Linked DNA regions of Homo sapiens. The protein of the gene in region 5 purifies or fractionates together with the protein of the main gene of each other region. This does not show direct contact. Each region holds a gene or a part of one and is shown on either strand. Other genes may lie near its edges. The genes, in order: ADNP, XRCC4, ARID4B, WARS1, NT5C2 and GNPDA1.

Region 1 (3,500 bases), on a different chromosome or scaffold from region 5:
ACTTTTTTGTTGTTGTTTGAGATGCAGTTTTTTTGCTCTTGTCACCCAAGCTGGAGTGCAATGGCACAATCTCGGCTCACTGCAACCTGCACTTCCCGGGTTCAAGCGATTCTCCTGCCTCAGCCTCGTGGCTGGGATTACAGGCGCCCCACCACCACGCCCGGCTAATTTTTTTGTATTTTTAGTAGAGACGGGGTTTCACCATGTCGGCCAGGCTGGTCTTGAACTCCTGACCTCAGATGATCCACCAGCCTCGGCCTCCCAAAATGCTGGGATTACAGGCGTGAGCCACCAAGCCCGGCCACGTGTTTTCAGACTTAAGGAGCTTGCTGAGGTCTGCACTGCTAAATCCTTCACTGAATTTTCTTGAGGGTTCTTCTTTTGCTTTTCCTGCAGTTTCCTTTTCTCTTTCCTCTTCACCTATGCGGGAACTTGTTCTAGTTCCCACAGCTCCTCACCAGTCAATTCCTCAGGAATCACCTCTAGGAGCTCCTGTTGTCCTCATCCACACCCCGGTTAAAGTTGTTTGCCATCTCAATCACAGACTTTGTGATTTATGCAAATCCTTTTAAGTCATGGACAAACCTCTTGAGTGTATTCTTCCAGATGCCATTCATACACTCCTTGATGACATCAACCCAAGCCCAAGCAAGATTCTTAATGCAGTCACAGATATTGCAATCCTTCCAGAATTGTATCAGAATCTTCTCAGTGTCTCCCTAAGCTGCGACGACAGGACAAAGGCCTTTCTCAGATAGTACGCCTTAAAAGCTGCTGTAACTCCATCAGTTGGATCAAAGAGGTGGTGTTTGATACTGGGATGAAAAACACCACTTAAAGGAGGCATTTGCTTATCAGCGACAATAAGCAAAAGCTTGAAGGGTATGTTATTCTCTCAATACTACTTCTCCACTTCGCAGGCATATCTATTCAGGAGGGCATCTTGAAAGAGGAGCAGGGTCACCCACGACTTCTTATATCTCCTGCAGTGCACTGGCCAAGTGTGTGTGTATTGATATGCTTGAAGCCCCTAGGGTTCTCAACATGCCAAATCACAAAGGGTTTCAATTTGTGGCCTGCAACATTGCCCCCAAGCAAGACTGTCATCCAGTCCTTAAAAGACTTGAAGCCTGGCATTGCTTTGGTCTACCTCATGGATCAAAGTCCTTTCAGGCATCTGTTTCCAGAATAGAAAGGTTTCATCCATATTGAAAATTTGTTCTGGCAAGTGATTTTCCTCCAGACTCAGCTTATCTAGAGTTTCCCAAAATTCTTCCGCTGCCTTTACATCAGCACTCACAAACTCACCACTTTCCCATTATGTAATGAATAACGATTCTTGAATTGTTTACACCACCCAGAACTAGCAGTCAATTCAACATCACAGCCAGGTCCAGCCTTTTCTTTCAACACCTCAAACACACTTTTTGCTTTGGGATCATCATGGTGCTGAGAGGTACACAGCACCGTGTGCACCTGTGTCTGCTCTTCAATCCAGGTCATCAGAAGCTTGTGTGTGTCTGATAAAGGCCCTTCTTGAATTTTTGTTAGTCTCATTGCCTTCAATGAAGCAGATGCTTTAACAGCTTCTGTCACTTTGTTCTTGTTCTTCAAGATCATAGCTATGGTAAAATGGGACAAGCCTGACTGGCAAGAAATAACCATCACTGATTCTCCACCTTCGTAGTCCTTAATCACTTCTGTTTCCAGGTCAATCACTCAACATGGCCCCTTACTGGCAACATTATGGATTTTGTATGCTTAGGGGCCATGATGAACAAAATACCATGAGATTAAACCATGCACAAGAATGATGCAATCAAGAGACACAGTGAACACAAGCTGTATGAGGCTGCTACCAGTTACCATGAAAAGCTGTTTTAAAAAGTAGGAGTACACTCTAAAATAAAAAGTATATATAGTAAATACATAAACTGGCAATACGGTTTTTAACTGTCATTATCAGGAAGTCATGTGCTGATGTTTTCTGTCTAGTACAGACTGCATATGGGACTATGTTCCCCCAAGATTATAACGGGGCTGAAAAATTTCTGTCACCTAGTATTTACTATACAGTTGACTCTTCAACAACATAGGTTTGAACTGCTTATATGTGGATTTTTTCCAAACAAATGTAGATCAAAGATACAGTATTCTTGGGATGCTCAAACCCTCTTATACAGAGGGCTAGCTTTTGGTATATGCAGGTTCTCCAGGGCCAACTGTGGGACTTAAGTATGCAAGGATTTTGGTAATGAGGTTTTTTTTTTTTTTTTGAGATGAAGTCTTGCTTTTGTCCCCCAGGCTGGAGTGCGATGGCACGATCTCAGCTCACTGCAACCTCCACCTCCCAGGTTCAAGCGATTCTCCTGCCTTCCCCGCTCCCACTTCCAACCTCCAGTAGCTGGGATTACAGGCATCTGCCACCACACCTGGCGAATTTTCGTATTTTTAGTAGAGAGGGGGTTTCACCATGTTGGCCAGGCTGGTCTCGAACTCCTGACCTCAGGCGATCCACCTGCCTCGGCCTCCCAAAGTGCTGGGATTATAGGCATGAGCCCAGCGCCCGGCCGGTAATGAGTTTTTAATCATTATTTGAGTGTACCACTTACTTCTATATTTTTTAAAAAAAAGTTAACTCTAAAACAGCCTCAGCCAGATCCTTCAGGAGGTATCTAGAAGACGACACTGCCATCACAGGAAATGATGGCTCCATGCGTGTTACTGCTCCTGAAAACCTTCCAGTGAGACAAGCTGTGAAGGTGGCAATGGTAATACCATTGATCTTGACCCTGTGTAGGCCTAGGCTAATTATGTCTGTGTCTTAGTTTTTAACAACAGTTTAAAAAGTTAAAAAAAAAAAAAAAGTTTAAGACTAGGAAAAAGCCTGTAAGCATATGAAGACAAAATATTTTTATACAGCTGTACAATTTTTTTTTTTTTTTTTTTTGGAGCGGTAGCAAGATTCATTATGAAGAGTGAAAGGACAAAGCTTCCGCAGTGTGGAAGGGGACCCGGGCAGGTTGCCGTGTTTGTGTTTTAAGCTAAGTGTTATTACAAAAGATTCAGAAGTTAAGAATTTTAAAGTTTTACTTTTTATGTAGCCTAAGTGTGTTTATAAAGTCTACAGTGATGTACAATAATGTCCCTTCATATTCAGTCACCACTCAGAGCAACTTCCAGTCCCGCAAGTGCCCAATATAGGTGTACCAATTTTTCTTTTATATTGCATTTTTACTGTACCTTTTCTATGCTTCACTATGTTTAGAAACACAAATACTTACCATTGTGTTAATCACTCTTATAGTATTCAGTATATAGTATTCTCTTATAGTAACATGCCATACAAGTTTGTAGCCTAGGAGCAACAGGCCATACCATATAGCGTAGGGGTAATAGGAGGCTATACCACCTAGGTCTGTGTAAGTACCCTTTATGATGTTTGTACAACAATGACATCACCTAACAGGGCATTTCTCAGAATGCATCCCATCATTAAG
Region 2 (3,500 bases), on a different chromosome or scaffold from region 5:
GGATTACAGGCATGCACCACCACGCCTGGCTGATTTTTGTATTTTTAGTAGAGATGGGGTTTCACTATGTTGGCCATGCTGGTCTCAAACGCCTGACCTCAAATGATCTACCTGCCTCGGCCTCCCAAAGTGCTGGGATTACAAGTGTGAGCCACTGTGCTCAGCCAACCAGGACAAATTTTATAGGGCTGTTGTTATTTAGAAATGTCTTTTTATTTTTTATTTTTTTGGAGACAGGGTCTCACTCTGTTGCCCAGGCTGGAGTGCAGTGGCGCAATCTCAGCTCACTGCAACCTCTGCCTCCCAGGTTCAAGCAATTCTCATGTCTCAGCCTCCCGAGTAGCTGAGATTACAGGCATGCACCACCACTCCCGGCTAATTTTTGTATTTTTGGTAGAGATGGGGTTTCACCAGGTTGGCCAGGCTGGACTTGAAATTCTGACCTCTGGTGATCCACCTGCTTTGGCCTCCCAAAGTGCTGGAATTACAGGTGTGAGCCACCACTCCTGGCCTAGAAATGCCTGATTTTTTAATTAAACCTTGTTTAGAGGTTATATAAAACAGAGATATCTATTTAGCTGATGGCCAAAAAAATTCAACCAAATTAGAACATTCAAGAACATAAAGATCATGGTTAGGCATTTAGGTACGAACATTCAGTTCAGGTATGTCTGATTTAATATCTAAGGGATTTCTTTGACTCAGGACAAAATGAGAAAGAGAGAGAACCAGCCAATGTCTTAGAAAACTGTTTTTGAAAAAAAAAACTAGATAAAAACTGAGAAATTAAATTAAGGCACATACACAGTTGATCGCTGAACAACTGAAGGTTTGTTCTGTGTGGGTCCACTTACACTCTAAAGTTTCTCAATAAAAGTTACACCAACTGTGTCCACCTCTCCTGCCTCCTCTTCCACCTCCTCTACCTCTGCCACCTCTGCCACCTCTGCCAGCCCAGAGACAGCAAGATCAATCCTTCTCTTCCTCTTCCGCCCCAGCCAGCTCAACATGAAGACAAGAATGAAGACCTTTATGATGATCGACTTCCACTTAATGAATAGTAAATATATTTTCCTTTCATTATGATTTTCTTAATAACATTTACTTTTTTCTAGCTTACTTTATTGTAAGAATACAGTACATAATGCATATAACACACAAAACATATGTTAATCAACTGTTTATGTTATTGATGAGGCTTCTGGTCAACAATAAACTATTAGTAGTTAAGTTTTGAAGGAGCCAAAAGTTATACATGGATTTTCAACTGCGTGAGAGGTTGGCATCCCTAACCCCTATATTGTTCAAGGGTCAACTCTATAGCTAATTACAATGTACGCTACTATATGGACTTAATAAATCATTCATTTCTTCTAAGAACTCATACAATATTATGAACTGGTTAAATGATTAGATTACTATTTAAAAGCCACCTATCACTACCATTAGAAAGGAGAAGCAATGAGAAAACAAGTCCTGATACCCATGTTTTATGTTCTTAAGATTGTTTTAGGACTGTCGTTCAAAGAATTGCTAAGTTTAAACTTCTTCTAGAAGTCCGCAAAACAATGTAAGATTGTGTGGTTCTAATGACTTGATATAAAAGCTCAAATGTCTACTTTGCATCAAAAAGCTTTTTGTTAAAATACAGTGATATTCAGATGGGAATTAACAGTGGTGATCTATAATATGATTTTCTACTGAGACATGCTTGTCAGATAATGACAACAAGGTCATATTCCCTTATCACATCTAAAGTGCAAAAACTTCTATTTTCTATGTTGCCATTTAAGAAGTTATCAGAGTATAAACTTTTGTCTCCCCAAATTAATATCTAAGTCATCATGAGCCAATTTCTCCTTAAGAACAATGTTGAAAATGAAGGGTTAGTTCCTAAACACAACACTTGGCAAGTTTTTAAAATTCAATTTATAGATGAGTATCACAGCACAGCTAATTTACAAATTTATAAATAGCAATGATACTGTCATTTTATGTTAAACCCATACATGGAACTCTATTAGTATACTATATCATACAAGCATCTACCTAAAAATTACAAAAAAAATCATAAACATTTAAACTTTAACTTTTTAAGTGCCCCAACGTTTAGACAGATGTAATTTTATTTTCCCTGAGCAGCTGTTCATTTGGACATGTTCCGTATTTATTGATATACTGTGTCCAATGCTAGGGTCACATTTCTTAAACAGGAACTTGGCAACTTCCAAATTCTATGGTAAATATTGACATGTCTCAGCATGTCAATATTTATACTGTCAAGACTTTGACAGGTTTCAACAATGGCTGCATCTCATTTCTTAGCAGCCATGTGCTTCTGTTTCAAATGAGCAAGTTCCTTCTTTATCCAATAAAATTCTCATTCACTGCTCAGGTAAAATTAGAAGTAAGTTAATAGCATTCTCTCACACAAGACCAGATTGAACTCTTTGCTTACTTCAACATTTTAGTCACTTCTGTAGGATTAGCAAAGCTATGGAAATGAACACAAATTCAGGATACAATGTCCTCCAGGTAATATTTGTTTTTGATTACTTAATCTCAAGCCTAATTATCATTTGCAACGACATTACTAATGTGGAAGCCTTTTCAGAATCTATAGAGCTAATCGATTTCCTTTTTTGTTAGTCTTAAGGGCTAGGTGAAGATAAAACTGCTTTAGTTTATAGGCTGCGACAATAATGATAATATTCAGAAGGCAGTTTGAACTCAGGATGCCAATCATAAAGAGTAGTTGGGAAGTCTAGCTCATTATCTAGGATTAAACAAACAGTATTTTAAACGCAAAATTAGTTTACCTAATTTTGTGCTACGTGTCAGAGATACTGTTAACAAACTAATCATAATTAAATCAATCTTAAGAGCAAATTTCGGTACTGCTGAAAGAAAATCTTTGCAACATCTTTAAACACTCTGGGATTTCCCAATGGTACACAAGTTTAATGTAACATGAAGTTACTGGTAGTAATGGCATCTAGCAAAAACATAAATGCCTCATGAACAGTTTGGAATTTTGGCATGTATTTCTTCTTTGGCAAGTATTTCTTCTTTTTGGCAACACAAATCTCAAGAATGTTTTCCTCCCCAAAAGTGCCTAATTTCATCAACATTAAAAATTTGCTGTCTGCAATTGAACCCTGATCAATGATTTCAGCCAATGCCTTAGAAAAAGGCACAACTCACTTTCATCAGGGCTGGCAGCTTCCGCAATAACAAGGAGCAAATTGTCCAGGGCTATACAATGCATTAACTCCCTCCTACTTGTATCAAAAGGATACAGTACCTTTCAATTATTTTAAAGACAGCCATCTTTTTCCTAAGAAACAAGGTATAGCAAATAAGCCATTGATTTTACACTCAAAAGACCCAGGTTGGAATCAAAACTATGCTTCATAGCTGAGTGTCCTTGATCATGCCATTAATGCATTAAAACATTCACTGATTACTTCCTATGTACCAGGATTTGATATCCCAAAGAT
Region 3 (3,500 bases), on a different chromosome or scaffold from region 5:
TAGTAGAGACGGGGTTTCACTGTGTTAGCCAGGATGGTCTCAATCTCCTGACCTCATGATCCACCCACCTCAGCCTCCCAAAGTGCTGGGATTACAGGTGTGAGCCACTGTGCCCGGCCCTGAATTCTACTTCAAAAAGGCTCAGATCTATCCTCTCTGCTCCACTTCCAATGCATTAGTTCAGGCCCTTATTCATTTTCCACTTGGACTTCTTACCTGGAATTTCCATCCTTACATTCAGCTCTCCCCTTGTTTTTGCAGTGGCCTGATCTCAGCTCACCGCAACCTCCAGCTCCTGGGTTCAAGCAATTCTCAACAACTTTCAATGGTTCCATGTAGTTTTCAAGAAAAAATTTTTTTTTTTTTGAGACAGAGTATTGCTCTTGTCACCCAGGCTGGAGTGCAATGGCATGATCTCGGCTCACTGTAACCTCCACCTCCCGTGTTCAAGCTATTCTTCTGCCTCAGCCTCCCTAATAGCTGGCATTACAGGCTCACACCACCATGCCCTGCTAATTTTGTATTTTTAGTAGAAACAGGGTTTCACCATGTTGGCCAGGCTGGTATAGAACTCAGGTGATCCACCTGCCTCAACCTCCCAAAGTGCTGGGATTACAGGTGTGAGACACCATGCCTGGCCAAGAAAATTTTCGACTCCCTCACTCAGCTTCATCTCCCACCACTGCCCTTTTATTCCTACCCAAACATATCATGCTTTAAGTTAATTCAGTCACACCAAATTACTTACAGTTTCCAGATACTTCACCTTGTTTCGTTCATTTTCCAGTACGTTATCCTCTATCTGAAAAACTTTTCTTCCCTTCTTTGCCTAGCAAAAGCCTTCGCACTCAGCTTAGATGTCAACTCCACCAGAAAACTTTCCATAGCTCTCTGATTTAGCTGTCCTCTTCTGTCCTCTCATAGCATTTCCTACAATTATTTTATGTTGGAATACTCATAAATAGATATGCTAGGAGTTTTGCTTTATTTATCTGCATCTTCTGCTACACTGTGGGCTCCCTGAAAGCAGGTCAGATGCCTCACCCACCTTCATTCTATATTACCTGATATATGAAACGGGTTGTTGTTAAATGAATGACTTATGAAAGGGGTGAGACAGAAGGAAGAGGGGGAAGGAAAAGAACAGAGAGGGGGGAACGAACTGACAGAGTGGATAGGGAGACAAACAAAGGTAGAGGTAGGGGGAGAGAGAGAGAGAACATGTACACACACACAGGGCATTAAAAAAGGGAATTTGTAATCAATCCATTATTTTTTCATGTGGCCTAAGCCAATCATTGTTGAAGAAAGAAAAGTACATCTGGAAAATTCAATCTACGTGGATTCTAAATATAACCACCTTTTTTTTTTTTTTTTTCCTGAAATGGGGTCTCCCTGTCACCCAAGCTGGAGTGCAGTGGTGCCATCTCGACTCACTGCAACCTCCACCTCCTAGGTTCAAGCGATCCTACCTCAGTCTCCTGAGTAGCTGGGAATACAGGCATGCGCCACCATGCCCAGCTAATTTTTTTATACTTTTAGTAGAGACGGGGTTTTCATCACTTTGGCCAGGCTGGTCTTGAACTCCCAACCTCAAGTAATCCACCCACCTCAGCCTCCCAAAGTACTGGGATTACAAGCATGAGCCACCATGCCCGCCAAAGTATAATCATCTAAATCATTCCTCCTCTAAAGATTCTGGTATATCCAGCCCAACCAGCCCATTTTAATTGAAAATTTACTGCTACGTAATAAAAGACGTTAATAACATGTACAATATAGATACAGGAAAAAAAAGTTTGAGTTTAAAAAAAGTAAAAATCGGCCGGGCGCAGTGGCTCACGCCTGTAATCCCAGCACTTTGGGAGGCCGAGGCGGGCAGATCACCTGAGGTCAGGAGTTCGAGACCAGCCTGACCAATATGGAGAAACCTTGTCTCTACTAAAAGCACAAAATTAGCCCGGCATGATGGTGCATGCCTATAATTCCAGTTACTCAGGAGGCTGAGGCAGGAGAACTGCTTGAACCTGGGAGGCAGAGGTTGCAGTGAGCCGAGATCGCACCACTGCACTCCGGCCTGGGCAACAAGAGCAAAAGTCCGTCTTAAAAAAAAAAAGTAAAAATCAACCTGACATAATAAAAATAAGTCTTGGAATTATTTACAAACTTTAATAATCTACCACCTCCTTATAATGTGGTACTGCTGATTTTTATTTTATTTTATTTAGTTTTTTTTTTTTTGAGAGAGAGAGTTTCACTTTTTTCGCCGAGGCTGGAGTTCAGTGGCGCAACCTCAGCTCACTGCAACCTCCGCCTCCTGGGTTCAAGCAGTTCTCCTGCCTCAGCCTTCCGAATAGCTGGGATTACAGGTGTGTGCCACCATGCCCAGCTAATTTTGTATTTTTAGAAGAGACAGGGTTTTACTACGCTGGCCAGGCTGGTCTCAAACTCCCTTGACCTCAGGTGATCCTCCTACCTCGGCCTCCCAAAGTGCTGTGATTACAGGCGTGAGCCACCATGCCCAGCCGGCACCACTGATTTTTAAAAGTCTATCAAGAGCATGAAAAATAAATTCAACATAACACCAACATCACGATCTATGTTACAGCACAAATTCCTTATGTATTACGAATCATATTCCTCAAAAACATACTGTGAAAAAAGTAACATAGCATATATTAGACAGTAATGGGAATGTATTTGTTTACATAAATTCTTAAAGGTAGTACATGGGAAAACTGCTAAAACATACAACACTTCAACTTTAAAACAACACCTAAAAAGTATTACTACATAATCTAACTTTCAATCACCTCAATAAACTGTCACTTAATAAAATTTAAAGATTTGTTGTCGTTAATACAACAGACAATTCAAACTTAAAAGCTTGCTCCCAAGTACAAATATGTTTGGTAAGATCCAATAAATGGCATAAAACCTTCTGTAGCTCAATGATCATCGTAATACAGAAATTACACCAGGCACGGTGACTCTCGCCTGTAATCCCAGCACTTTGGGAGGCTAAGGCGGGAGAGTCACCTGAGCCCAGAAGTTCGACACCAGCCTGGGCAACACGGCAAAACCTCATCTCTACAAAAACTACAAAAATTAGCCAGGTGTGCCTGTAGTCCCAGCTACTCAGGAGGCTGAGGTGGGAGGATTATTTGAGCCCAGGAGGCAGCAGTTACAGATCGTGCCAGCCAGGGTGAAATAGTGAGACTCTATATCAAAAAGAAAAATAAAAAAGAACGAAAGAAATTGGGAACACACAGAAAAAGAAACAAAATTTAGGCCTAATACACTCAACATTAAATAGATTCTGAATTGCAATTTTTGCTAAAGCAAAATACAAATTACAAGAAGCTTCTCATCTTTTATCACATAAGAAATAAAGTTGTAAGAAATAAGCTAAGTTTTTAGTACTAATAATTACTAGCAAATTCTCTGAGATTTGCTATACTTATAATAACAGGAAGTACTTGTATGAAGTTAGAAATTTA
Region 4 (3,500 bases), on a different chromosome or scaffold from region 5:
CTACTTGGGAGGCTGAGGCAGGAGAGTCACTTGAACCCGGGAGGCAGAGGTTGCAGCAAGCTTAGATTGCACCATTGCACTCCAGCCTGGGAAACAAGAGTGAAATTCCCTCTCAAAAAATAAAAAATTATAACCAAAACACCTCAGTCATTGAGGAAACCATCTATTCTAGAGGAACACAACCCTACAGACTTGGGAGGCTCAGCTGCCTTCGTGGAGAACCCAGCAAAATCATGTACCTTTGACGCATTTCCCGCTTTGAGGGACCTTACGAGCTCCCCTTGTGTGGCGATGCTGTTGAACAGCTCCAGCAGAGATGCGGGCTCACTGTTGGGCATGTTTGCTATCTCTCAGGAACTACGTTCACAGCCGGCCTGAGGTCAGAGGATTTGTTCAGCAGACGAGTCAAGACTGGGGTGGGGGCGGGGAAGGAGAGAGAGGAAAAACCAGAGGTTAACACAACATCGCGGCTGTTTTTCCTTTCCTGTATTGAGTCCTTTTTTCCGAAAAGGTTGTGAGGTGAGTTACAGTAAAGGACATAGATAATATAATAAAAAGAGAACCAGAAATTTGGGGCCATGAAGAAGAGGAAAACCATCAAATGCCAGTGATGAAGACTAAAGGAGTGGCTAGGATTTACTGACTTAAGGTGTGAATCTACTTGACTAGGAGGGGCCCTCCTAGTCAAGATCAAGTTTGCATCTGGTGATGCCCCTGTGCCCCCACCCAGTGCCCAGAACACAGGAGGACTCCTGTTTGCTCAGGGTATAAATACCAATGTGTTTTAATGAACTTAAGTTCATTGCTAAAAACTTTTGGCAAATTACTATTTGATTTTTTTTTTTTTTGAGATGGAGTCTCGCTCTGCCACCCAGGCTGGAGTGCAATGGTGTGATCTTGGCTCACTGCAACCTCCACCTCTGGGGTTCAAGCGATTCTTCTGTCTCAGCCTCCTGAGGCTGCCTGCCACCATGCCCAGCGAATTTTTGTATTTTTAGTAGAGGGAGGGTTTCACCATGTTGGCCAGGCTGGTCTTGAACTTCTGACCTCAGGTGATCCTCTCACTTCAGCCTCCCGAAAGTGTTGGGATTATAGGTGTGAGCCAAGGCACCCATCCTCTATTTGTGGTTTATCTTAATTGCCTTGGGGATGAATTCTTGGGCTTTTGCAGCCATAACTAATATATCGCTGAGCAAATGTCTTCCACTGCTGGTCAGCTGCTCTCAGACAAAGTGAGCTCTGGGGTGGAGGACAGGGCCTTACCTGTCCTAGGTTCCACATGAGGTAAGGACTGTCTCCAGTCTGTCCATTCCACGTGCTGCCTTATTTAACTACAAGCCTTTGCAGAAGGTGTGTCTGCACCTCCTATTAGTCATGATTCATTATAACCCTTGCAGGAAGTGGGGACATGGCAGACAGAGACTGTATCGCCATCAAACCTTTCTTGGCTCAATCACTTCCTAAGAGTCAAGTTTCCTAACCTATAAAATGGCGCCACCAGGAACTTCATCTACCCCAGGCTCTTATGAGAACAAAATGAGAAAAAAAAGGCATGGTAGCACTTTGTAAACTGTAAAGCAAGATGTAACTACGTTACGAGTGCTGTTATTAAATTTCTTGTGTTTCTTAGGATTCCAAAGATTGGCTGAACTCCAGCTTCATTTTAACTTGCTGTAAAACCTTGGAGAAGGAAAATGACAAGGCTAGTGCCTGAGCTGCTAACTTTGAACACCTCTGTACCTGTTATTGTTCTAAGCACCGTATATGTATCAATTCACTTAAGCCTTGCAGCAGTCCTATGAAATAGATTTGTAATCTCCATTTTATAGATGAGGCACAGAGGGGTTAAAAAAAACTTGCCCATGGCTGGGCATGGTGGCTCATACCTGCAACCCTGGCACTTTGGGCAGTATAGTGAGACTCTACAAAAAAATGAAAAAAAAAAAAATTAGCTGGGCATGGTGGTGGGCCTGTAATCCCAGCTACTTGGGAGGCTATAGCAGGAAGATCACTTGAGCCCAGGAGTTCGAGGCTTCAGTGAGCTACGTTTGCGCCACTGTACTCCAGCCCGGGTGACAGAGTAAGACCCTGTCTCTAAAAATAAAAATAAAATAAAATAAAACTTGCCCATGTTAACATCACAAGGAAATGGCAGAGATGCGTTATAGACTCTAGTAGTTTGACTCTAGAGCCTACACTTTCAACCATTATCTTACAAATGACTTATCTTTATGAACCAAACATATACATTTGTGGTGTCATTTATTTTACTCTATCCTATCCATTTGTTAAATATTTGCTTTAAAAGTACGTAAATTGGCTGGGTGTGGTGGCTCACGCCTATAATCCCAGCACTTTGGGAGGCTGAGGTGGGTGGATCACCTGAGGTCAGGAGTTTGAGACCAGCCTGGCCAACATGGTGAAACCCCGTCTCAACTAAAAATAGAGAAAAATTAGCTGGGCATGGTGGCGCACACCTGTAGTTCCAAATACCTGGGAGGCTGAGGTGGGAGAATTGCTTGAAACCAGGAGGTGGAGGTTTCAGTGAGCTGAGATCACACCACTGCACCCCAGCCTGGGTGACAGAAAGGTTCTGTCTCAAAAAAAAAAAAAAAAAAAAGTAGGCCAGGTGTGGTGACTCATGCCTGTAATCCCAGCACTTTGGGAGGCCAAGGAGGGTGGATCAAGACCAGCCTGGCCCACATGGTGAAACCCCATCTTCACTAAAAATACAAAAATTAGCCAGGCATGGTGGCATGTACCTGTAGTCCCAGCTACTTGGGAGGCTGAGGCATGAGAATCACTTGAACCTGGGAGGCAGAGGTTGCAGTGAGCTGAGACCATGCCACTGCACTCCAACCTGGGCAACAGAGAGAGACTCTGTCTCAAAACAAAAAAAATTCCAAAAAGTATGTAAATCACGGGTGCTGTGAGCGGTGGCTCACAACTGCAGTCCAAGTGCTTTGGGAAGCAGAGGCGATTGCTTGAGCTCAGGAGTTCAAGAGCAGCTTGGGTAATGTCAGGTCTCTGAGCCCAAGCTAAGCCACCATATCCCCTGTGACCGGCACGTACACATCCAGATGGCCTTAACTGATGACATTCCTTCACAAAAGAAGTGAAAATGGCCTGTTCCTGCCTTAACTGATGACATTCCCTTGTGAAATTCCTTCTCCTTGCTCATCCTGGCTCAAAAGCTCCCCTGCTGATCACCTTGTGACCCCTGCCACCTGCCCGCCAGAGAACAATCCCCTTTGACTATAACTTTCCTTTACCTACCCAAATCCTATAAAACGGCCCCACTCCTATCTCCCTTCCATGACTCTCTTTTTGGACTCAGCCCGCCTGCAGCCAGGTGAAATAAACAACCTTGTTGCTCACACAAACCCTGTTTGGTGGTCTCTTCACACGGACACGAGTGACACGAGTGAAAGGTAACATGGATAGTGAGACCCTGTCTCTCCAAAAAATTTTTATAAAATAAAAAAACAAAAATTGAAAAA
Region 5 (3,500 bases):
TCATGTTGCCCAGGCTAGTCTTGAACTCCTGAGCTCAAGCAATCCACCTGCCTTGGCATCACAAAGTGCTGGGATTACAGGCATGAGCCATCATGCCCAGCCCCAAATGCATTTCTTAAGGATTTACCAAAATGGAAAAGTGGACAAACTAGAGAAGGCCAGAAAAAAGTAGCAGGTATGATTTGCTGCAACCCTGCCTCTAAAATTTGTCTTCAAAATATAAAACAGTTTCTATTTTAAGTTTGAAATTAAAAGGCATTTCATATTTTATTCAATAGTTTATAATACATGTAAATTTAATATTTATTAATGTTATTAGTCGGGTGGGAGGTATCTGGACAAAAAAAATGGACCACTGTCATCCACAAAGGATATGTTAAGTATAATGTAATACACTAAAACCTCTTCTAAGTTTGAGAAATGCAAACTAAAATAAAATCCAGAAGCCAAACACCATCACTGAGGAAAGATCAACATTACCACCGAGACCAAAGACAAGAACAAATGTATTCTAGAGGGCTATCACTAGGCGGGGGCAAATCTGTTTTTTCTTTTTTTAAAAAAAGAAATATTCTGCTCCATTTGGAAAGTTAATGCCACGCCATAAAATACATGCCAGAAAGCAAGCAGGTGAAGAAACAGCTTCTAGGTACCTTGTAATGAACCCAGTCAACAGCATCTCTTACATCCTGGAACATACTCCGGTAGGACATGAAGAGGTCCCCATCTTTAAATCCTGTTTCACAACTACAGAAAGATAAAAATAACATGACAGGGGATCCAAAACAGGGTAAACAAAATATATATCAAAAATTTCCCAGGGGACCCAAAGGTTCCATATCACATGGGTAAAGGCTGTGGCTAATGAGGAAAATAATTACTCCCTAATGAAAGTCCACTTTGACCACCAGAAATGGCTATAGTGTTCAATGGAATACAGTAATTGTGAACAAATACAAAGTGATAGAAGAATATATTGAATGGAAGCTAAAAGGCCAAAGTTCCAAAAATGTCAGGTTTTTTTATTTATCACTTTTTAGAAACAGGTTGAAGAAACATTTAAAACTTAAAATTGGTCATTTAGGTTCTTTCCACCCTGACTTTCCTGACACTGTCCCTAAGTACAAAGGTACTGTCCATTTTTTTATTTAGTTCAGTGACTCAGCTTTCCACCAAATTTAGTGTCTTCAAGTGGATAAAGCCCAAAGAGGATAAGAAGTTAGCCAACTCTGGTATATAGATGGCTAAACTTTCAGTATTGGCTATATAATTCTCCCTAAAGGGAGAGGATAACTTGTTTAAGACTTACGCAAAATTTTACTTCTGATAAGATACACAGTATTTATTCCTTAATCAAATCTTGCCTGGCCTGGGAATGAAATTAAATTACCATCCCTGAATGGCTCCTGGGTAGCTGCTGTGAAATGAGTTGGGGGGTTTTAGTGTAATTCTGCTTGGACAGATAATCATCACACAAACCTCCCACTCAGTTGTCACAATTAGCACCTCTGCTGGCCGTCTTCATTCCCAGGAGAAGCCAATCAGAAGTGGTGGCTGCAGCACACTGGCAAGGAGAGGGGCCGTGTGGGAGGTGAGAGCCTGCATGGAGCTGCTGGTGCTGTCCCATCTCTCAGGTTGGCAATGTGGCATCTCTCACTAGCACTAAATTCACTTTAGAAAAGCAGAAAAGACCTACAATGGCCAGTTCTCTAAAACCCTGTGCATTAATTTTAAAAATCAATTGGAAAAAAATAATTATAGTATATACATACCTGGTATATCTGGGACAATTAGTAAAAAAATCTACTAGGCAGGCCAACAGGTAGGTCTCTGAAAAATGAAGAACAGATATTCATAAGCTATAATGAAATAATTCAAACTTATTTCATTACCTCCCTTGAATACAGACTAATGGTCACAGAAGGGAAAGCATCAGTATAAATAAGCATAGAATGAATCTACCTGGTAGGTTGAATAGTGTGTTCAGAATGTAAAATCTTTCAGTATCATCTCGCTGGATAAATTTATTTGGATACTGTTCTCTAGTTTCTGGTCTGAAAGAAAAATTTAAAAATTAACTGATTTTTAAAATAACATTATAATAATTGGGAAATAGCATTATTCAAAAATTAACTCAAATATTTTGATGGCTATGTGCAAGACAGAATTCCGAATATTACGCATGGATAGCTATGAAGATGAACGAGTTCAGGTTCCAGCTCTTTATTTTTTTTAATTTTAATTTTTTTTTTTTTTTAAGACAGTCTTGCTATTTTAAGTCCAGGCTGGACTCAAACTCCTGAAGATTGCTCAAGCAATCTTCCCACCTCAGCCTCCCAAGTAGCTGGGATTACAGGTGTGATGTCCAGCTTAGGTTCCAGCTCTTAAAAGAGTTGTCAGTGTGGTGGGCGAGGTGGGTCACATACACATATAATTATAAGGTAAAAAATCACAACTACTACAAGAAAGGTGCAAACATTTATGAGAAAACCAAAGAAGGGAACACCATTTCAACTTAAGAGGTAGAGAGAAGCAAATGTGAGGACTAAGGAGAGGAAAATCTAGGAAGGATTCATGCACGTGCTGGTATATGAGCTGGGCCTTAAAGGCTAGGTGGACCAGTTGTGAAACTAGTCCAACTTGGGTAGAGAAAGGGGAGCAGAGAAAAATTAAGCTAGAAAGATGGGTTGAGGCAGATTAAGCTACTGTTTCTACACCATTTAGGGGCAAGAGGGTACTACTGACAGTTTTAAAGCAGAGGATAATCCCATCGGGGCTGAGTTGTAAAACAAAATTAAATTAGTGGCTGTTTTAGGATAAACTGGGGAAAGACAATGTGATGCACTCCAACAATGGCCACAAATTCTTCCTGTCTCTTTGTGATGCAATTTTGTGGCTCCTCCCATTAGAACTCAGTCTATTTCTCTATCCTTGAATATAGGCTTGTATAGCAGCAAATGGGATCCAAGCAGAGACCTAGAAAAACATGTGTGTATTGAGGCTTAATCTCTCTTGCAGCACTTGGAACCATGGACTACTATGTGCATGACAGTGAGATAGTCTGCTGGAGGATAGAAGGCTACATGTAGAAATGAAGCACTCGGCCAACAGCCTGTGAATGCCAGACATGTGCATGAGGCCATTGTAGATCAGATGCCAGGTCACCCACCAGCTAACCACAGACATGTGAAAGAGCATAGAGAGATCAGCTGTGCAACCCAGAATCACCCAGTTGACTCTCAGAATTTTTTCTTTTTTCTTTTTTTTTTTTTGAGACAGAGTCTCACTCTGTCGGCCAGGCTGGAGTGCAGTGGCGTGATCTCAGCTCACTCATATATTCAAGAGAGATTACCAAGGTAAAATAAGACCCGGCAAACTGAGCAGATTTGGCTGGGGGAACATTAAAGAGTCAAAGATGATGATGTCCATGCTAAGGTGTCTCTGAGAGGTGGTTGGTACGATGAACAGAAATATGAAAACTAGATAAGAAGTGATGTGAG
Region 6 (3,500 bases), on a different chromosome or scaffold from region 5:
TCCTAACTGTGGAGAGACCCAACCTCTGTATGGGTCAGAGTCTGGCCTTCTGAAACCATTCCCTCGTTCCCATCATTGCAGAGTCAGATCCAAGCTCTTCAGAGTGGCATTCAAGGCCCTCCAAAACCTGGCCTCTCCCTGCCTGTCCTGCTTGAACCAACAGGACAGCGTTTCCACACGGGTTCCTTGGAACATTGCTTCTGTTAGATGTAGCACCTGTCAGGGTTCTGAGTGGAAACCACAGAAACCAACTCCAGCTAAATTAAGCAGAAAAGGAGTTTATTGGCTAGATACTGGGAAGTTCAGAGAATTCATGGGAAGGCTAGAAGTTTGGAAAATGGCAGGAGAGAGGAAGCTATGTGGCTCAGGCATAGCTAAGGCCTTGTCACACGGACCAACTAATTATTTTGGGTGGGCTGCGGGGAGCTGCCATTCACTCAGCAGGTATTTATTGAGTACCCTCTGTATGCAAAGCTGTTCTAGCCTCTAAGGATACAGCAATGAACAAAAAGGATATGAACTTCTGCCTTCTGAGGCTTAAATTATAATGGGAGAGACATAATAATTAGCAAAATATAGAGTATGTTAGATGGTGATAAGAGGAAAGGAGAAACATGAAGCAGGAAAGGATAGGGAGTGTGTCGGCAGGGGTGGGGCTGTGCAGTGTTGGATATGGTGGCAGGGAGGGTCTCATAGCCAGGGGCCAGGTTCTGTGGAGCCTTAGAATAACTGGTGTTGCTGAGGGTGAAATGAGAAGCTATTGGTGGGTTTTGAAAAGAGGGGTGACATGACGTAATCTCGATGGGTTTTTTTTCTTTCATTTTTTTAGTTTGCAAAATTTCAAATATTCAAAAAAGAGGAAAAAAACAGGTCAATACCATTCACCTAAATTCACCAATTGTTACCATTTTGCCACATTTGCTTTTACCTTTCTCTGGCTCTTGTTCTTTATCTACACACACACACACTTTTTTTTTCTGAACCACATGAAAATAAGTTCCAGACATCCTGACACTTATCTCTAAATCCTTCAGCACATATCTCCTGAGAATAAGGACATTCTCCTACACAACCATGATACCATCATACCTAAGAAAATGAAAAATCATGCCATCATCTAATATGCAAACTGTGTTCACAATTTTTTCTCAATTGTCCACATTTATCTTTTATAGGTTGGTTTTTAAAAAATTAATTCAGTGTCCAGTCAGGGTTCATGCATCTTTAGTCTTTTAATATACAGTGTCCTCCTACCTTTTATTGTGTGTGTGTTTTTATGACATTGACTTTTTTTTTTTTTCAAGATAGAGTCTGGCTCTATTGGCCAGGCTGGAGTGCAGTGGTGCAATCTCGGCCCACTGCAACCTCTGCCTCCCAGGTTCAAGTGATTCTTGTGCCTCAGCCTCCCGAGTAGCTGGGATTACAGGCACATGCCACCATGCCCAGCTACTTTGTGTATTTTTAGTAGAGACAGGGTTTCACCATGTTTTCCAGGCTGGTCTTGAACTCCTGACCTCAAGTGATCTGCCCGCCTTGGCCTCCCAAAGTGTTGGGGTTACAGGCGTGAGCCACCATGCCTAGCCATGACATTGACTTTTTAATGAGACTCAACTAGGGCTTCGCTGCTCCTCAGGGAAGTCTTCCTTGAACCCTGAAGCACTGGGTGAGCCTGTGCTTTACCCTATCACAACTGACGTTCCTGCTTTGTGTTCTACTCCTAGTGAGTTATCTTAGAGTAGCTACTGTCCCTTGCTCCCCTGTGTCCTTATCACATGGCCCTGTGCCTTGCACATATTACTTGTTCAGGGAGTATCATGTCAATAATGAAGTCTGATGTTCACTCAGGTACTAATCAGAGTGATTTCAGTCATCAGTGTGCTGGATACTGGGAGATTCAGCAGTGATCAAGGCAGACACAGTCCTGCCCTCCTGGAGCTTACAGTCTAGTGGCAAAATAGGCATTAAACAAGCAATTAATGGATGGATGGCAGTTAGGATTGGAGTACTGGGTAGGACTTCAGATCTGACAGGTTCTCCCTGTGAGCAGCCCTGACTTATTCCTGTGAACCCTCTGGGCTTCCAGACTTGGGGTGCAAGGGGTGTTCATGGGTGTGGCCACTCTTGCAGGGAGTACCCCACTTGGCTGCTACAAGAAGCTGATTGAATACTATAAGAATGGGGACCTGTCCTTTAAATATGTGAAGACCTTCAACATGGATGAGTACGTGGGTGAGTCTTTCTCTTTCAAGGTTCTTTCCTGATTCTAGGAGAGTGATGCTCCTCCTCTCATTGGCCCAGTCCTGGAGAGGAATCGGGGAGCCAGTGACATTTGATGATAGGCTCAATTATCAATACTTACCTCTTGGTTTACTCAGCTATAAAATGGGGCTAATAAAGCTGACCTCACAGGTTGTAAGCATTAAATTCATTTAATCCTTTTATGATAAAAGATGTGGAAGTTTCTTATACATAACAAATACTTAATAAATATTAGAGTATCTCCTTCTCCTCTGCCTGCTCCTCAACTCCATTCCATTTCTTTCTGGAACAAATGATTGCAAGTGGGATCCTGGCTCGGGTGTTTCCCCTAGGATCTGTGTCTGTGCTTTCTCTTCTGTGTGTGGCCTCCAGCTCCCCTTTCTGCCAGGTACACTTGAAGGGGACCTGAGATTGGTATCCTTCCTGCTGCTGAAAGACTATACCTTGGTCTTCTATCACCTCTCCCTCACCCAGTCCTTTTGTAATAGCTTCATTTTAAACATCCTTTTTTTAAAAAAAAAATTGTGGTAAAATACATGTAACATGACATTTACCATCTTAACCACCTTTCTGTGTATAGTTCAGTAGTGTTAAGTGCATTCACATTGTTGTGCAACCAATTTCCAGAACTCTTTTCATCTTGTAAGACTCAGGCTCTATACCCGTGAAACAACAACTTCTCATTTCCCACTTCACCAGCCACGGAAACCACCATTTTACTGTCTGTTTCTATGAATTTGACTACTCTAGAATCAAACTAGAGTATATAACTGGAATCATAAAGTATTTGTCTTTTTGACTGGCTTCTTACACCTAGCATAAAGTCCACAAGGTTCATCCATTGTTGTAGTGTGTGTCAAAATTTCCTTCCTTTTTAAGGCTGATTTTACATATTCTTAATGCTTAACATTAAACATTATTTTTTTTTCCTGGCCAAAAAAAAAAAAGTTGATCTGGGGAAGCCCTAAGATAGTTCTCTCTAACCACCTGGTGTTCAAGCTGGGATTTATTCAGGCTGAGTGGGGTAGAACTGGGAGTGGATGGTGGGTTGAGAGGCACAGGGTGAGGGGTGTGCTTGCTTGCTTTCTAAGATGAGTTCAGCCCTACCCCAGGTGGCCAGAGTGTCCCCAGCCTCTAACCTATGGTCATTGCCTTATGAAAAGCAGATCAGATCAGAATGTGGGGATTTCCCAGGCCCTTGGTGTGCAGTTACTCTGGCCAAGCCCTGTGGCCACAGATGG

The links.
Region 1: the proteins of NT5C2 (region 5) and ADNP fractionate together in Homo sapiens (co-fractionation; one large-scale study listed by BioGRID). This does not show direct contact.
Region 2: the proteins of NT5C2 (region 5) and XRCC4 fractionate together in Homo sapiens (co-fractionation; one large-scale study listed by BioGRID). This does not show direct contact.
Region 3: the proteins of NT5C2 (region 5) and ARID4B fractionate together in Homo sapiens (co-fractionation; one large-scale study listed by BioGRID). This does not show direct contact.
Region 4: the proteins of NT5C2 (region 5) and WARS1 fractionate together in Homo sapiens (co-fractionation; one large-scale study listed by BioGRID). This does not show direct contact.
Region 6: the proteins of NT5C2 (region 5) and GNPDA1 fractionate together in Homo sapiens (co-fractionation; one large-scale study listed by BioGRID). This does not show direct contact.

The regions. Positions count from the first base shown.
Region 1 is NC_000020.11:50,896,938-50,900,437, forward strand, and holds part of ADNP (activity-dependent neuroprotector homeobox protein), read right to left. Parts: intron 1-3,500.
Region 2 is NC_000005.10:83,084,047-83,087,546, reverse strand, and holds part of XRCC4 (DNA repair protein XRCC4), read right to left. Parts: intron 1-3,500.
Region 3 is NC_000001.11:235,321,680-235,325,179, forward strand, and holds part of ARID4B (AT-rich interactive domain-containing protein 4B), read right to left. Parts: intron 1-3,500. UniProt on the Homo sapiens protein: Acts as a transcriptional repressor. May function in the assembly and/or enzymatic activity of the Sin3A corepressor complex or in mediating interactions between the complex and other regulatory complexes.
Region 4 is NC_000014.9:100,368,848-100,372,347, forward strand, and holds part of WARS1 (tryptophan--tRNA ligase, cytoplasmic), read right to left. Parts: intron 412-3,500; 5' UTR 339-411; coding exon 240-338; intron 1-239. UniProt on the Homo sapiens protein: Catalyzes the attachment of tryptophan to tRNA(Trp) in a two-step reaction: tryptophan is first activated by ATP to form Trp-AMP and then transferred to the acceptor end of the tRNA(Trp).
Region 5 is NC_000010.11:103,099,273-103,102,772, forward strand, and holds part of NT5C2 (cytosolic purine 5'-nucleotidase), read right to left. Parts: intron 2,055-3,500; coding exon 1,963-2,054; intron 1,831-1,962; coding exon 1,773-1,830; intron 1,693-1,772; exon of another isoform or gene 1,480-1,692; intron 1,410-1,479; exon of another isoform or gene 1,391-1,409; intron 748-1,390; coding exon 654-747; intron 1-653. UniProt on the Homo sapiens protein: Broad specificity cytosolic 5'-nucleotidase that catalyzes the dephosphorylation of 6-hydroxypurine nucleoside 5'-monophosphates.
Region 6 is NC_000005.10:142,006,528-142,010,027, reverse strand, and holds part of GNPDA1 (glucosamine-6-phosphate deaminase 1), read left to right. Parts: intron 1-2,127; coding exon 2,128-2,229; intron 2,230-3,500. UniProt on the Homo sapiens protein: Catalyzes the reversible conversion of alpha-D-glucosamine 6-phosphate (GlcN-6P) into beta-D-fructose 6-phosphate (Fru-6P) and ammonium ion, a regulatory reaction step in de novo uridine diphosphate-N-acetyl-alpha-D-glucosamine (UDP-GlcNAc) biosynthesis via hexosamine pathway.